Regions from separate parts of the Homo sapiens genome. Here region 1 is linked to region 2. The links come from fine-mapping of genetic effects on gene expression. A gene starts in region 2. The other region holds a variant in brackets. All regions are shown on one strand. Distances are from middle to middle. Region 1 overlaps LOC100130698 (a long non-coding RNA gene). Region 2 holds the start of MAT1A (methionine adenosyltransferase 1A).

Region 1 (4,390 bases), 35 kb after region 2:
GAGATACTGTCTTAAGAAAAAAAAAGAAAGAAAGAAAAAGAAAGAAGGAAAGAAAGTGCATCAGACTGTGCATGTCTCTCTCTCAGTGAAAAAGGGAGAAGCATTTAACTCCATGTTCCTGTCTCCATTGGTTGAGGGCTGTCCTGTGGGAACAGGGCAGGAATCCACCCGGGGTATGTGGATCTGGTGACAGCCAGCATGTGTGGACTGTTTGCCAGAGCTGTGGCTGGAATCTGGAGCCAGGTGAGAACAGATGAGGCTGGACAAAGGGTCTCAGCCTGGTTCCCAGGTATGGGACTTGACAGCCACCTAGCTGGCCAGGATGGGAAATGCAGCAGGGACCAGGCAGCGAGGGAGGCTGCTGGGATCCCCACCCCACAGAGGAGGCAAACCTGAGACAGGGCAGCCCTTTCCCCTGGAAGTCCTTGCTTCAGGGACAGACCCAGAGGCTCCACACAGCAACCCAGCCACAAGGGAGGCCTGCGTGTCCCCATGTGATGGGCTTTCATGGCGCTGGGCCTTAAGGAGGTCACAGCCTTGGAGTGCAAGAACTCCCATGGCTCCTGAGTCCCAGGACTACCTGCCTTTGCTGTCCCCTCACCCAGGCCATCTGCCCCCCTCCACCTCCTGCAGGCTCACCCTTTTGTTCCCTGCTTTCTCTTTCTCTGCTTCTCTCTGCCTCCCTCTTTGTCCTTCCTTTCTCTCTGTGACCCTGTCCTCAACAACTCTTTCCCTACCTCTATTGTGCTGTTTCTCTGTGATTCTCTCCAGCCTCCTCTCCCTGTCTCAGTCCTCTCCATCTCTCTTGTTTCCTGTCTTCATTCCTCTCTTCTCTGTCTTTTTTTCTCTGCCTTTCCCTCCGTGTGTGGATCACTGGCCAGCTCTCTGGACATCTCCCTCCCTCCAACTCCCTTGGTTCTCACTGTGGGTCCTTCTGTCTTTGTCTCTTCCAGCTTTCCTTTTCTCCCCCTGGGCCCAAATCAACTTCTCTCCATGACTCCATCCTCCCATCTCCATCTCTCTCTCTCTCTCTCCTCACCTTCCACCTTCTCTCTCTCTCCCTTCTCTCTTTCTCTCACTGTTTCAACCCCTCTCTCTCTATCCTCCTTGTCTTTCTCCTTCTCTCTGTCCTTCCCCTCCCTCTCTCATCCCTTCTCTCTCTTCTCTCTGCCTGTCTCATCCTCTGACTGAACTCACCCCTGCGTTCTCTACTCCTCTCCAGTCCTGCTCAGTGAGCCTCTCACCACCGACCTCTGCCTATCACACAATTTAAAAATTACAGGAAGATGGTGGGGGGCACAGGACTTATGGAGAAATGTCTACACCCAGCTCAACTTCCCTTAGAGCTGCCTGGAGTTGGTTCTACCGAGGGCAGCTGGCTCAGTGGGGAATGGGCTCTGACAAACCCTGAGTCTCTGCGAGGCCCCTCACAGGCTCCACAGCCACTGCTGGGCCCCCTTCTATTCCCTGTCAGAAGTTGGCCACCTCATGGGGATGTATTACTGTCTATCTGCTCACAAGGCACCACTGGCAGTCACTAGGAGCACAGTGACTCTTTCTAGAATGAATGAGCACAACCTCCACCCGTGGCTGGATACAGGATATTCCCCCACCCCAGAAGCCCCCCTCGGACCCTTCCCAGTCAACACTACCCAAAGGGTAACCCTGCTTCTGTGTCCAGCAAGGCAGTATCTGCCTGAGTTTGAATAGTGTATGAGGAGTCACACCTGGTATACCCTGGGGTGTGAACTGGTCCTCCAGGAAGCGGACACCCAGAAAGATAGGACTGCAAATGTTTCTAAAGGGAAACACTGGAAATGAGAGAGAGAGGAGGAAGCATGGGACATGGAGCATCAAATATGGTAGAGACTTTTCCAAGATATCATGGCCCAGGAGACTCTTCAAATTTCAAAATTATCCTGTAAGGTAAAAA[G/T]ATTTCGGTTTATTTCCAGGTGACCTTCTTTTGCCCAATATACATTTTGTCTTCTATGAAATATCTGTGCCCCTGCTGAATACTTCTGTGTGTGGCCATATCTGTGTCTGTATGTCATGGAGAATAATTATCCACAGATCACAGATACAAATCTCAGAGTTTAACTGTGTATGCATTTTTAGGATCTCTTCATCTCGTAAGGATCTGAATTCTAATCTTGGAGACAGGGGCTTTCCCTTATCTTTTGAAAGAGAAACTGGAAATCCCAGAGCCTGAGCTGCTACACCCTAAGGTTTATTAAATGAACTTCAATGAACACCTTTTGCTGATCTTCTGAGTGGAAATATTTTCATTTAACCAGCGGGAGGGGTGAGGCTCTACCATCTACCAGCTATTTTGCAAGATGCCTTCCTTATGAGCTTGGTCTCCCTGTCCTCACCATGACCTCATAATCGCATCATTCCCAGCTCATTTCTGAGAAAGCTGGGGCTCTGAGCTCTACTGAGAGTTGGTGTCTGGGCTTAGGCAGCAAAGACACAGGGAAGGGGAAGCATTTTGCCTGCCAAGGTTGGGAGATGCAAAGCTGAGAGTTGTGGGTGGGAAGGAGAGGGTGCAGGAGATCAGAGTAGGTCACAGCAGCTCAGGATTGGCCTTGAGTTTCCAGCCAGAGTTGGCCTCATTCTGAAGGCCAAGGCCGCAGCTCCACTGAACCAGACCCATCCTCATTGTTAGTCTCCTTAGGCCGTGAAAACTCAGGGAGACAGGTTCCCCTGACAGAACCAAGTTAAAATTTTCAGACCTCTAGGCATTCATTCACCCCGATCTAGAGCCTTCATGCACCCAGGGAAAGAATCATCTTCCTACCGATAATGGACTAAAGGCTGTAGGGCAACAAGGAAGTGCTGGGGTGGTAATTTCCTGTGCACAATGTGGTATCTGAGCTCCCATGGCAGCTCTGTGTGGCCCTCACCGCAGCCTCCATGCTCCTGCTCACGCTGCTTGCCTGGCTAGGAGCAGCCTTCCAGCTCTACCTGAGTTCAACAACCCCCCATGTCACACCTCCCTGCTTCAGCTTTCTCTTCCACAGCCTCCTGTTTACTCCCAGGAGATTCTGTCTCCTCCTTCTGCACCCTGTGTCCCTTCACTTGTGTTTCCATTGGGCTGGTCAGAAGCTCTGTGCCCTTCAGTGTGGGTCTCTCTGCTGCAGCACACAGGATGCCCTGCCAGCCAGGGATGGGTCTCATCCCTCACAGAGCTGGCCATATGGCCCAGGTTCCACACAAGCCTGCAAAACTTGTATTTCTAGCTTCTATAAATAACCTCTGGCTGGGCACAGTGGCTCACACTTGTAATCTCAGCACTTTGGGAGGCCAAAGTGGGCAGATGGCATGGCTCCAGGAGCTTGAGGCCAGCCTGAGCAACATGGTGAAACGTGGTCTCTACAAAAAGTTAAAAAATAAAAATAGCCAAGCATGGTGTTGCACACCTGTAGTCCCAGCTACTCTGGAGGCTGAGGTGGAAGGATCACCTGAGCCCTGGAGACGGAGGTTGCAGTGAGCCAGGAGTGCACCCCTGCACCCCAGCCTTGGTGACAGAGCAAGACTCTGCCCCCACCCCTTAAAATGAAAAAAAACTCTTTCCTCATCTACAGAAGATACCTTCTGCCAAGGTCATGATGAGGAAATAATGCAACTGACTTGTACTCTCAGAAACTTGAGCAAAGTGACCACATCCTCAGCCAGTGCAAAGCCCTGCAGTACAATCTGTAACATTTCTATTCATTCAGAAAGGGAAAGATGAATCCATTTTGCAACTCAGTTCATACTGTTCAGATAAATATACCAAGTAGTACATGTGGAGGTCGTGGTCGAGGTCCTACAGGCAACAATGGGTAGGGGAGCTGGTTGAGGTCCTGGAGGAGTTCAGATAGCAGAGGCCAGCCAAGTGGAGGAGGTGGCAGATGTACTAGAGGAGACCCTGGTGGAGGAAGTGGCTGAAGTCCCAGGGACCACAAATGGAGATTATTGAAGTAACCGAGGAGATTCATGTGAAGGTGGTTATTGAGGGGCCAGACGCCACCCAGGTAGAAGGGGTGGCTGAGGATCCAGAGGTTACTAAGTGGAGATGTAGTCGGAGGTCCCAGAGGCCTCACAGAACAAAAAGGTAAATGATGTCCTAGAGGAAGGCAGCTATAAAAGATGGATGAGGTCCTGGAGGGAAGACACATGCTGGACGTGGATGAGGTCTGGGAGGACCAAGAGCTGTAGGAGGTGGATGAGGTCCCGGAAGACAGACACATGTAGCATGTTGATGAGGTCCCAGAAGACTTACAGCTCCAGGAGGTGGATGAGGTCCCAGAGGACCAACAGCTGCAGGAGGTGGATGAGGTCCCAGAAGACCTACAGCTGCAGGGTGTGGATGAAGTCCCAGAGGACCAACAGCTGCAGGAGGTGAATG
Region 2 (4,390 bases):
TATATGTGTATATTCACATATACATACATATGTATACATACCATAATCTATTTTTGTTCAGAGGAAAATCATATGTATGTAAATAGACTGCTTAATAATATTAGCTGATATTTATTAAATTTGTATTGTGTGCTAGCACTTTGTCCAATACTCATCATACCTAAATGACCTCATTTAGTTCTCAAAATAACACTAGGAGGTAGGTAATTATTTAACCCGCTTTACAGCAGAAGAAACAACAGATTAGAAAGGTTAGGAAGCCTTCTCCATGCTGCATGGGAGGTTACAGGCAAAAGTTGGACCCTAGTCCAGAAGCCTGCACTTCCATCCACCATGCTCCGTGTACTGCTTCTTAACATTTACTTGCTAGAAGAATATAAGGCATCCTAGTATTTAGTTGGGGTCTTAAATGAAACTCATACTTGAGATGAGTTTTTAACGAGGTGCCTCTCAGATCCCTCCCTCACACCCTCAATTGGCATCCAGGCTGCCAAAGCCCCCTGCACACATATCTGTGTAACAGATCGTCTCCCCACCCTGACGCCTTCCACCCCATGGTGCTGTTACTTATGGAATTCAGAAGGCAGCTACTGCTTTGTTTTCTGTCTTCCTGATAACTCTAGGAACCTTGAAGAGTACCTGCTACTTACACATCATCTTGTTCTTAAATCAAATTTGGACCATAATTGTTATCATACAATTTTAACTGCTAAGGTCACCTAGTTCTACAGTTCAAATTAAACATTAGCTCATATTGCCTCTAGGTTTAAAACTAATGTACCCAGAAGAAATTTACTAAGGGCCAGCAATGTTGAAATAGCTTAAGTGCAAACAGAGGAGTCCTGTGTGCTGGCAATGACAAGGCGATGTTGTCTAAAGTCCCTATTTGATTCCTCGTTTGTCCATCCCTTCCCAGTGGCCTTTTCCTCTCTGAACTTTCAACAGTCTTGTGCCTAAGCACTTCAGTTCACTCCTTGTTAAATGCCGTTGATTGGCTATGCATATGTAACATCCCTTACTTTATTCCAGAAGAGGTCACCTTAATACTGCTTTAATTCCCTGAAGGGATGATGTTTGGTCATCAGTTAGCAAAACTCAAGCTTTGGAGCACCAGAATGTGTGCCAGAAAAAATTTTTCCAAATGCTTGATAATAAACTCAGAGGGGGGTTTGGTCACCAGAATTGTTAGGTGAGGCTATTGCTTCCTAACTTTTGCTTCCCACAGTCCAAGCTTTGATGCACAAGGTTATGGTTGATTACTTTTTATTGCATTCTAGTGGGAACTGGTTTCTCCACCCATCCTCATTTTCTGTGGTCTCAATTCCCCATTGTTCCTTGGGTCTGAGGATGCAGCTGGATCTGAGAGTGTGAGACGCTGTCATTTAGTACATGAACTAAAGATATAATCCTGTTTACTACTTTTTTTGGTCAAAGCAAAAAATAATGCAAGAGTTATGTGAACACGATGTTTATTACATGTATAGAACTGAATATGTAGATGTTTATAATCCGGAAGCTTTGGGAAACTGGACTTTGATAATTTCCCTGTAATGAATCCATTTCTCAAAAGCATTTTTTTCTAAAAAAAACACACACACACACACACACACACACACATTGTTCTCTGTAACCTCCCCAGATAGATACTTTTTAAAGATCTTGCTTGTTAAAATGCCTGCCAGCCTTTTAGAGAAGTTGACAGGTTAGGTGGTTTCTGTTAGCAGAAACACGTGGACTCAAAGCTTTTCCTCTAAAATGAATCTGTTGTGTAACATCACAGCTGGCTCAGAATACAGGTGCGTGCTCCTGCTCTCCCTGAGAAGATAGAATGGGAAGAGACCAATCCAGATGAGACGCAGGGGAGGAGGGGACACCCAACAGCAAAGGCACTGTTGCAATCTTAGCCTAAACCATATCTCTGAGAAAGAGTTTCTTGTTGCCTGCTTGTATCTCTGGGTGATCACAGACCCCTGCTCTCCAAGGTGGGTTGTGAACTCTGGAGCACTACCAAGATTGGCTAAGAGCTGAAGGAGAGTCCCAAAGGAGCTTCAATTCTGCAGAACTATACAGCCTTCTTTACCTTACCTTGACCAGGTGCTTAGAGTTTGGAAAGTCAGGGATAAGAATTGAAATTCCTCCAGGTAAGAAGACCCCCCTCTTAGGAAATGGACTCCTCCAATTTTCTCACATGATTTTTCAGGCACTTTCGCTTTTCCATATATAGGAGTCGCTCAGGAGCAAGCTGTGGCAAGCTGGAGGGAGGGACACATCCCGTGTTCCATCCACTCCCTCCCTTCTCAGCAGTCCTCGCCTGTTCTCACGTGCTCACAGGCAGTTAGGCAGAAGTGATCCCCGTGGCTCTGCCAAAGACAAGCCTGTTGGGTTGAAAGAAGAAGAAGAAGAAGAAAAAAAAACTCAGGCAAAGTCACAGCCTCAAAATTGTTCACTGAAAGAAGCGTGAGTGGAGAAGTGTGAGAAGATGAATGGACCGGTGGATGGCTTGTGTGACCACTCTCTAAGTGAAGGAGTCTTCATGTTCACATCGGAGTCTGTGGGAGAGGGACACCCGGGTAAGTAGGCTGTCTTGGACTGACTGGAAAACGATCATTCCAAGCCTATACTGAGGGAGTCACTTACAAATGGTTTTAATTTGACACATAATAATTGTGCATATTTATGGGGTACCGTGTGTTGTTTTGATCCATGAGTATAACATTTAATGATCAAATTAGGATAATGGGCATACCCATTGCCACAGACATTGACTACTTCTTTGTGGTGAAAACATTCAAAATTCCCTCTTCTAGCCCTTCAGTCACCCTACTGCGCAATGGAATGCCAGAGCTCATTCCTCCTATCTGACTGTAACTTCGTACCTGTAGGAGTCACTTTTACCAGAGCTCTTCAGAGCAATGTGTGTGAGTTACCAGAAGGGATCTCTAGAGAAACAGCATGGAGTAGTTTCATAAAACAGTCCCTCCTGATGAAGCCGTGCTGTGGCCCACCACCAGCACGCCAGCACAGTGGGTCCAAGACAGGGAGTAGCAGCTGGCTGGCTAAGAGTATGACACATGCAAAATATATGATCAGGTCTTAACTTTTTATATGTATTTTTTTTTTAGGAAAGCTTTAATCTATTATCCATGGCCAATTTAAGTCAACAGGGAATGTTCCTGAAACAAGACCATGGGTGACTAAATTTTGCATGTGAAGCATGTGCAACTTAGGCATGAAAGCCTGCACCCTGGTCACTGCTGGGGTAGACCTCTAGGTGCTGGGGACTCAGTAACGTTCTCTAAGAGCAGAATAGAAGACCTTCTAAACAGGAAGAAAATTTAGGCATTGATTTTGGTCCCTGAAAAGTAGGTAGACTGTGATGTGCGGAAGTGAGAGAAGCTTCCTTGATGACGGTGAGAACTAGGACCAGGACATTCAGAGCCTCAAGTGTAGGACAGTGGTTCTCAAACTTCAGGGAGCTTCAGAATCCCCCAGAGGGCTTGTCAAGACAACAGAGGGCTGGGCCCCACCCTCCAGAGTTTCTGATTCAGTAGGTCTTGGGAGAGGCTCGAGAATTTGCATTTTTGACAAGTTCCCAGGAGATGCTGATGCTCTGGGGTGAGAACCACTGCTCTTGGAGACCCCTGGGGGATAGATGTACAGACTTCTATAGTTAAGTCCCTCTTCAAAATTCATTCGAGTGTTTGCTAACTTATTGCCAAGTCTGCCTTTTTCCATCTTCCTTGCTCTTGTTCTTCCTCAAAGATATTTATCTTTCCTACCTTGTAACTTGGCTTTGGACACCTCAGTGCACTACTCCTTCCATATACTTTAGCCAGTGGTTTTTGACTGGTGGCAGTTTTGCCCCACAACCCCCAAGAGCATTTTGTACTGTCTGGAGACATTTGCAGTTATCACAACTATAGGAGGTGGGGGTAAGGTGCTACTGCCATGTATTGAGTAGAGGTCAGGCACACTGCTAAGCATCCTACAGTGCACAGGACAGCCTCTCAAGAATTATCTGGCCCAAAATGTTAATAGTGCAGCTGTTGAAAAACCTTGAATTGAATTGAGTTTTTTATGTGACTTAGCTCAGTTCAATGTAAATAGCCTCTTTCATTGTGCATAACTGTATAAAGTATCTAGGTTTACTGTATTTTCAATCTCAGATACATTGCTGATTTCTGACACATTCTGATCAGCTCCATGGCTATGAGCCTCATGTATAGGTTAGGAGAAAGATTCACTCCACCCGGAGGAAGTGGGTTTTTTGGCATGCAGCGGCTAGTGGTCCCAAGAATGGTCCATTGTGCGCAGCAGCAATGTGCTCAGAGGACTGAGAATGAACGTGCCAGCCAATCAATTGATTGTTTTGTATACTTAATGACAGCCA

Evidence for each region.
Region 1: its variant is fine-mapped to the expression of MAT1A in unexposed skin (GTEx, PIP 0.97).

Annotation. Positions count from the first base shown.
Region 1 is chr10:80,252,941-80,257,330 of GRCh38, reverse strand. LOC100130698 (a long non-coding RNA gene) reads right to left here. Exons shown (of 6, transcript NR_136612.1): 6 at 1,923-4,390. Among named protein-coding and RNA genes, the nearest start is that of MAT1A, 35 kb to the left of the region's middle. RefSeq lists enhancers at 1-478, 479-979, 3,445-3,564. The variant G/T (reference allele first, on the strand shown) is at 1,934.
Region 2 is chr10:80,287,513-80,291,902 of GRCh38, reverse strand. It overlaps MAT1A (methionine adenosyltransferase 1A), which reads left to right and starts at 2,245. Exons shown (of 9, transcript NM_000429.3): 1 at 2,245-2,570. The coding sequence starts at 2,480. RefSeq lists an enhancer at 2,116-2,410.